Regions from separate parts of the Homo sapiens genome. Here region 1 is linked to region 2. A link means that fine-mapping ties the variant in region 2 to the expression of a gene that starts in the linked region. Tissue or cell type: stomach. Region 2 holds a variant in brackets; the other region holds the start of a gene. All regions are shown on one strand. Distances are from middle to middle.

Region 1 (4,336 bases), 250 kb before region 2:
TAAATGGTATCTGATATAGCCAAGATTAGTGAGGAATAAAAACACGTTGCTTAGAAATAATTATCCATAGATCTGAAGTCAACAAAAGTCCCTTTTCTAATGTAAAAATGCATACTTTTCTCAGAGGGAGGGGGAACAACTTAAACCAGAAAACACCTTCATATTAATCATCCTTCTCACATACTTCAAATTTGTACTTGATGTGTTTCCCCTCCTGGACATCAGAGAGAACACCTGGGTATTCAGGCAGAAGTTTATATTTCTCCAAGTCAATTTCTGAAAAAAACGTGTCACTTTCAAAGTCCTGCATGATCCTTGTCACAAATAGTTTAAGATGGCCTAGGTGATTCATGGCTTCCTTATAAACAGAACTGCCACCAACTATCCAAATCATGTCTACTTTATTTGCTAATTCTGGTCGTTCAGTAAGTTTTAAGGCATCATCCAAACTTCTGGCAAGAAAATGAGCTCCTTGTGGAGGTTCCTTGAGTTCTCTGCTGAGAACTAAATTAATTCTATCCTTTAAAGGTCGATTCTTCTCAGGAATGGAGAACCAGGTCTTCCTACCCATAATCACCAGATTCTGTTTACCCTCTACTGAAGAAGTTGTGGTCATTCTCTGGAAATACCTGAATTCATTCCTGAGCGGCGGCCTGGGCAGGTCCCCGTTCTTGCCGATGCCCATGTTTTGGGACACAGCGACGATGCAGTTTAGCAAAAGAAACATGACAGCAGCGGTTAACACCTCCGAACTTGCTGGCTACGCCAGGAAGCCAGGCCAAGAATGCCGCGAAATTCCCTTCTTCAAATTTTTTTACGTGCCTACATTGCAAATACAATACCACTGTATTAATTAATTGCAACATTCTGGAATGAACATAGAAAAATAAATTATATAAAATATATTTATAAAGTATAAATTTATAAAATATTTATAAAATATAAATTTATAAAATTATAAAAAATACAGAGGCTGAAAGGTTAGACCGACTTTTCCACAAACATTAAACAGACGGCATCCAAGAGATGGCATCATTTCATTCCTGATTATCATAGTCTTTTGTACCAAATCTAAATTCTAATAAGATGCATTTTTTAGGTGACTTGGAAACTTGTTTAAATAAATAAATATATTAAGCTTCAAATCAGATTAGAAGGAAAGACATGTTTTTACATGAATATAAGACTTGTACCTATAGCATGTACGTATATTGATATGAGCATCAAGGAACAACTCAAAATGATGATTATTAACTATCAGGGACCATATCAAACCGGTTTTTTCTAATTGCTGATTGCTGCTACAAATGATAGTTACTGAAGCATGACACCAAAAGAGCAAATAAACTTCTATTCGTGTCAAAATAGGTGTAATAAACATCTTCCTTGGAGAACCATTAAACATTGCTCCCTTGTAAAGGTGAATTGGGGAGGCTAGAGTGGAGGGTCCTTTTGGTCTTCACGCATTTGGTATCAACGCGACAAAAATCACAATGATCACAATAGTGAAAATAATAGCAGCTAACATTTGGGCATTTACTGTTTCCTAATCACTGTTGTAACCGCTTTACATGCCTACTTCAGTTTAACACTCTCCATTAAAAGGAGAGATTATCCCCATGGGCCAGGTCTGGGGAAAAGCATGACTTAATTTCTTTTTCATTATATTCCACCCTTTTATCCTTGGGTACTGAATGTCTAGGTTAACAGGGGTCACTAGATTTGGTAGATTAAGTCAGTAACTAGCTTCGCTTTGAGAATATTTTAAATCAGTCATCATACAACATAACCCCAAAACTCATTCCTTTATTGAGCCCCATGCATATACACACTGTTCAGCACAATATGCGACTTTTTATTTATTTTTGAGACAAAGCCTCGCTCTGTCGCCCACGCTGCAGTGCAGTGGCGCGATCACGGGTCACTGCAACCTCAAACTTCTGCCCAAGCGATCCTCCCACCTCAGCATCCGCAGAAGCAGGGGCCGCACAGGCGCGCAGATGTGTGACTTTCTAAGGTCCGGCCGCCCAAAGCTACGCCGACCAATCCAAGTAGCGAAAGTCGCTTTGGCCCTGGCCCGTTACCTCCGCGTCCTGGGAAGTATCAGCCTTTACCAGCTACCGGAAGTAACTGCGCACGAAATCTCCCGCGGGAGCTAAGCCTCTTCGACAAGAATTCTATAGCGCGAGCAAATCAGTATCTCGCGAGAAATTGAAGAGGAAACGTGAGAATGAAAGTGGATGCCCGCGAATCCCGGAAGTCAGACTGTTTTTTTCAGTTCCCTGGAGGCTTTTTGATACTGATTCGCGTACACCTGTTGTTTGAAAGCTCTCAGCGGGACAATGCTGACCCAGGTGAGACCTGGGGCCCGGCTGGGTACCTCTATCTGAATGAGACGCTTCTGGACGCGGCCGAGGTGGCGAGGGAGGGTGCTGGGATGGGGGAACATCACCTTTGTTCGTCCCCTCGCGAGATCAGCGTTTCTTTGGCTTTACTGTCAAGCCCTGAAATAATGCTGAGTGCTGTAATGCTGAGTCCCTTCCGTCCAGCTCGCAGACTTCTAGTACCCACTCCCTCCAGCTCTTGGAGGGCTGAGATTTGTTTTCTGTGTCACAGCGGTATCCCGGGAGCTTAGAACAGTGTCTGTTACATAGTAGGCATTGAATACACGTTTCTTGGATGAATAAATGAAACAATTGCAAGGAAGTTCACGATGAAATTGGAGTGACTTTTCTCCCTAAATTAACTTTTCACTTTAAAATAACGTTGCAAAGATAGTACAGAGTTCTCAAATACCTTTCACCAATTTTTCTTGATGTCAGCATCCCCGGTGACTTTTTAGTTTTGTTTAGATACAAGTTCTTGCTCTGTCACCCAATCTGGAATGCAGCTGCTCCATCATAGCTCACTGTAACCTTGAACTCCTGGGTTCAAGCGATCCTCCAGCCTCAGCCTCCCTAGTAGCTAGGACTACAGGAGCAGGCCACTACGCCTGGCTAATTTTTTTTTTTTTTTTACTTTTTGTAGAGACACGTCCTTGATATGTTTTCCAGTCTGGTCTTGAACTGGGAAATGATCCTCTCGCCTCGTCCCTGCAAAGCATGAGCCAGCTGGAGTACAGTGGCGCGATCTCGGCTCACTGCAACCTCCACCTCCTGAGTTCAAGCGATTCTCCCACCTCAGCCCCCTGAGTAGGTGGGGTTACAGGCGCCCACCACTACTCTCGGCTAATTTTTGTATTTTTAGTAGAGACGGGTTTCCCGTGTTGGCCAACCTGGTCTTGAACTCCAGACCTCATGTGATCCTCCCGCCTCTGCCTCCCACAGTGCTGGGATTACAGGTGTGAGCCACCTGCCTAGCCCCTACAGTGACTTTTTAAAATTAATTTTGTTCCTTTTGACAGTTTCTTCAGCCCCAGTAGATTCTGTTTTAACCTTTGCTTCACATTTGGAAAATAATTATTTGGAAAAACCTTGCTTTTTCATAATTAGATAATGTACAGTTTTGGTACATGTAAGGTATTGCTTCCATTTCAAGAACTAGTAATTATCCAAAAAAAGTGTTCTTGTCTTAAAAAAAGACCTTGCTAATGTTGACGTTCAGTAAATTTGTAATATCACTGTGTGTCAGCAACTTTTTCTTATCGTCATAGCTGAAAGCAAAATCAGAGGGGAAGCTTGCAAAACAGATTTGCAAAGTTGTGTTGGATCATTTTGAAAAACAGTATTCCAAAGAACTCGGAGATGCCTGGAATACAGTAAGGTTAGTATAATTCATCTCGATGCTTTATGATGGAACAAAGTACAATATGTAGTCCTCCTTTTTGTGGGAGGGATGCTGTGAGGTTAAAAGGCAAAGGAATCTAAATCTGGTTGCCTTTTCCTACTGAAGCTATAGAAAGGAACAACTAAGAAGAAATAGAATGAATCATAGCATGTTGGAAAGGGGAAATAAAACTTTGTCGGGATGGTAAGCACAAATTGTTACGCCTTTGCTTTGAGCAATTACTTTGATCCTTGAAATAGGAATGCCCACTAGTTTGACAAAATTAATTATACTGTAAAAGAAAAAAACATAAAATTTGGAATATTTGACTGATTTCTGAAATTTAGAAGATAATACAACAAATCTTTAAAGCCAGCACTGCTTTATCTCAGCCAAAGGTACACTTTATTTGGTAATCATATTTCTTTCCTATGTCGATGGCTGGGTATATTTTGAACACGTGCATATACACACAAAATTATTTAAATATAAAAATAAGGAATGTTTAATGCATGGAAGTGGGAGAAATGTGATTTGTCTGTTTGGTAAGATGATGTTAATGTATGGATTA
Region 2 (4,336 bases):
TAAATACAGATGTATATAATATTTCTGTGGATTTTTTTTTTTTTTTACAGCAAACAATTCTCAAATTTTGTTGCTTTATTTTATAAGTGTAGACCTGGTGCAATTCTTATCTCCCAAAGCCCAGAGGATAATTTTGCCTAGACCTCATCTTGCAATTTACTGTGTTACAGAGTATGGAGATTATAGAGATAGGTTCAAAAATAAATAAGAGTATAAACAATGAGCAAAAGAGAGGGATATGAGGAAAAGTATTACATATAAAAGTAAAAGGTATGGAATTTTCATGTCTTACCTGGGCAGAAAAAGGAGGGGAGGAGAGTGCTCTCTTAATTTTGAGAAGGACTGCTTTGGAGAGCCTTTTGAATTGTACAGATATGAGGCCACTGAGATGTTTAATATTAGAATAATGTAAGAAAATGTGGTGTTATATATACTGATTTTCATGCACAGTTCCTGGTTCATAACTCTCATAACCCTTGTTACAGTCTTTTGTTATAAAGTTGGGTGTGTTAGGTTTCAGGGGAAGGCCTCAGGAAATAGAATTTCTCTGACCTTCTCCTATCCTCCTTTCACCTGCCTCAAGGCAGGAATCAAATCTTCCCCACCTTTCTGATTGAAGGTTTTAAGACCCAGAGAGGGTCCTGCCCTATACCCTGGTGGAAGGAATGCTGATGTCATGAAGCTTCCATAAAAACCAGTGACGACTGGGTTCAGGAAGCTTCCAGATAGCTGACCACAAGGAGGTTCCTGGAAGGTGGTGTGCCCAGGGAGGGTATGGAAGTTCTGCCCCCCTCCCTCCATACCTTGCCCTACACATCTCTTCATCTGTAGCCTTTGCAATATCTTTTATAATAAACCAATAGATGTGTTTCCCTGAGTTATGTGAGCCATTTCAGCAAATCAAACCCCAAAGATGGGGTTATGAGAACTCCAACTTGAAACTGGTTAGTCAGAAGTTCTGGAGGCCTGGACTTGTGACTGGTGTGTGTGTAGGCAGGTGGCCATGGGGACTAATACCTCAACCTGTGGTATCTGGCCTATCTCCCGGTAGACAGTGATGGACTTAAATTGGAGGCCACCCAGCTGGTGTCCATTGCTTAGTGTGTGGGGAAAACCTCCCACACATTTGGTCACAGAAGTCTTCTTCTGTGTTGATTGTAGTTGTCGTGGTGTGAACACATAGAAAAAATGGTTTGAGAGTTTTCTGAAACAAAATATAAAGTTTTTTTTTTCATTCTATCATTGAAGGTATCATTGTAGAAATTTTAAAAAGTCATATTGACTGTCCATATATGGAGGAAGGGGCCTAGGACTTGGGGGAGAAGAGAAGAAAAAAATCTTATATTTCATGTGTTTGCTTATGAATTCTTTCAAATGTTCATTCATCCATTCGACAGGTATTTATAATGCCTCTCCTGTATGCCAGGCACTGTGTTAGGTTCTGAGGTTATAATAAGTTTCAATCCCCCAGATATGATCCACGCCTTCTTAGACCCTTTAGTTTTACCTCTATCCATGCTTGGGGGTGAAGAAAATTAGGGAACAGGCTGTAGAAAGTTAAGTGTTTCAGAGAGAATCCCATGAGTTCCTCACAGGATAGAAGCCAGGGCAGGTTGTCACTCTAAAAGACAAACGGTGGCAGTCAGAAATAAACTGTGAAGTGCATCAGAACTTACTGGGATTCCTCAACATCATAAACAACAAAATTGAATAGACACAGATTGGATAATGACTTGCACTATTATAATTTGTACATTAAAGGAAAAGTGATGCAGAAAACTGGTAGTTATTCGTTTACTTATTTACCTGTTTCTTTCCTCCTTACTGCCCCTCCCACCCAATTAGGAGACTTGAGATACTGTCTTTCAATTCTTTTGTTACACTATTCTAACGGCTAGCACATTGCATGCACAAAGTCTGTGTTAAAAATTGTTTTCTCTTTGGGGGAGAAGGAATGAGAGGAAAAGAAATAAGAAGGAATGTTCAGTGGCCTCTGGTTTGAAATAAGTAATTAGTTTATTATTCCTATTGGGTTACTCCAGGGAGAGGTCGCTGTCTCTTTGCATCATATGGTCCCAAATGGCTCCCATGCATATGCTGTGGGATCTGCATTTGGGCTTTCATGTGCATTTTTAGAGTGACAGAGGCTGTACTTATTTCTATTTTTAGTTATTTATTTTTTCCTAGGAAGTAGATGGTACACATTATGTTTTTTCTTCTGGATTTTATGAATTTGGGCTGACACATCAGTTCAGATGTTATCTTCAAAACATAAGCCCTAAGATCATGAATCATGATGTAGTATTACAAGGTAGCAATAATTTGATCAACTGTTTACAGTTGATTTCTCAGAAGGCTGCGTCTTTGTCTCTCAAGAAAATGACAAAGCTTTGGATGAGGTTTCATTTCAGGGGCTTGGAGGTAACTTAGTGTCTAACACCAAGTGGCAGGAATGTTTTAAGCTAAGACTCAAGTAAGAGATTCCCCTGAGGCAGATGCTGATGCTTTGTTTAACAAAGCAAACTATGAGTCCAAATTATTCATTACCATATTCATAAGTAATCTATTTAGTAAGACGGTATGAAGATAATAATAAAAACAAATATTGAATAAAGCTCTTTCCATGTCAACCTTTCCAGCACAAAC[A/C]GTATGCCAGCTCATTGTTAGTCTGGAATAAACGATTTAAAATTAATGAGTATATCTCCTTATTGCTAGGTGAGATGCTAAGTAATTGGAAATATGTAGCCAGACTTCCCATGAAAGCTGTCTTACAAAAAAAATGCTTGGTAAAGAAAGAGAGTTTATATTCATTTTTAATGGATTTGAGTATTCAAAATGTATTGTATGTGGTTCTCTTGCTTAAATGTAATCATAATTTGTATTTAAATGAAAGGAATTATCAACAATATTTGCCAGTATTTTTCTAATCCTTTCTTACTTCTTTCCATTCTTTGTTGTTTATATCTCCCTTTTTTATGATATTGCAGCTAGAGTCTGAAGGCAAGTTGCAAGCAGTAATCTGGTTGCACTTGTTTTTATATTCTCTTGATTTTATACCCTCCTTTGTGTTTCAGATTATTTGAGTAATTATTGTGCATAGCCTACTGCCATTTATAGCCATTCAAGAAGAAATATAAATCTGTTCCATTTTTGTATCCTGATTACTAACAGTATTTTAACAAGGTAGTAAAGTTCTTGATCCTGACATGTTAACACAGTGAAAGGCTATTTGCTCGCCTTGTAATCATCTCAGAAAAAGCTGAACTTTTTTCTCCTTGGGAAAGAATGAATAGAAACATTTGATTTATTCTTCCCTTATGATCTTCATTTTATAAAACTGGGAGAAAATGATGATGCGATACGAAGGGAATCTCTGCAGTCATAAGAACAAATCTTTATGAGGAAAAGTGAATTGTTGTCTTTGTTCTTGAAAGTACAAAGTGGAAAGGAGTTCAGTAGGCTGCTGAAAGAAGGCCAAGAAACCTCTGTTGGGGAAAAAGAAAAGTCTGGAAAGTAAACTAAATTCTGTTGGAAAAGGAAAGCATTCTTAATTCTTCAAAGAGGGTACAACTACAATCAAGGCAGAGGAAAACTAGTTTTCCTTGATTATAAAATAAGGGACAGAGAGAAGCAGGTGTCCCATGAAGATAATGATGCTCCAGGGAGGGGCACTAGGAATGCATTTTCATAGACATGTGCCTTTTTATTCTTATTCTTAGAGAGGGCTCTTTAAATTGTATAAACCACATAAAACCGGGATCTGCCTTTGGATGCAGTGTTTGAATGACCAGTGCTCTTAAAAAACACAAACAAACAAGAGTTGACTTTGGATAAGGAGGCCAGACAAACTAGAGGCAAGTTTTAAGTACTGAATGTATGCAGAGTACATTTACAAAATTTTGAAGTTCTTGTTTCATTAAAATTTACTTTATCTGTAAATGAATTATTTAAATATGCTCAGAAAGCTTCCCTCTGAAGTAATTTAAATTTTTAAAAGTTGTGAATTTGATTAGTCAATCCTTTTATTTTTAGAGCTGTCAAGGAAAAGATTTGTTCTAAGTGCCAAGAATCTGAGCCTATGGAATCTGTATTAAAGACTGTTTTTAACACACTTTCAAAATGTATCTTTATTTTAGTTTTTTCTTTCACTTATATATTCATAGTTATGAAGTACATGACAGAGTTCTGCTGAAGATCATATATTTACATTACACATGGATTAAATCTTAACATAACAAGTTCTTATCAGTGACAAGGTTATTACATGTGAGCCTTAATGCTAGTTGAGCCTTTGGAGTTTTAAATGGATTTGTTCTGTAGGTTGGACAAAAACAGA

Evidence for each region. PIP is the estimated chance that this variant, and not a neighbour inherited with it, causes the effect.
Region 1: DHFR2 starts here. The variant in region 2 is fine-mapped to the expression of DHFR2 in stomach (GTEx, PIP 0.93).

The regions. Positions count from the first base shown.
Region 1 is chr3:94,060,785-94,065,120 of GRCh38, forward strand. It overlaps DHFR2 (dihydrofolate reductase 2), which reads right to left and starts at 2,132. Exons shown (of 2, transcript NM_176815.5): 1 at 1,962-2,132; 2 at 1-822. The coding sequence starts at 727. The coding sequence ends at 164. NSUN3 (NOP2/Sun RNA methyltransferase 3) reads left to right here and starts at 2,277. Exons shown (of 6, transcript NM_022072.5): 1 at 2,277-2,354; 2 at 3,653-3,762. The coding sequence starts at 2,343. RefSeq lists an enhancer at 2,171-2,410.
Region 2 is chr3:94,308,456-94,312,791 of GRCh38, forward strand. No RefSeq gene overlaps it. Among named protein-coding and RNA genes, the nearest start is that of NSUN3, 250 kb to the left of the region's middle. The variant A/C (reference allele first, on the strand shown) is at 2,647.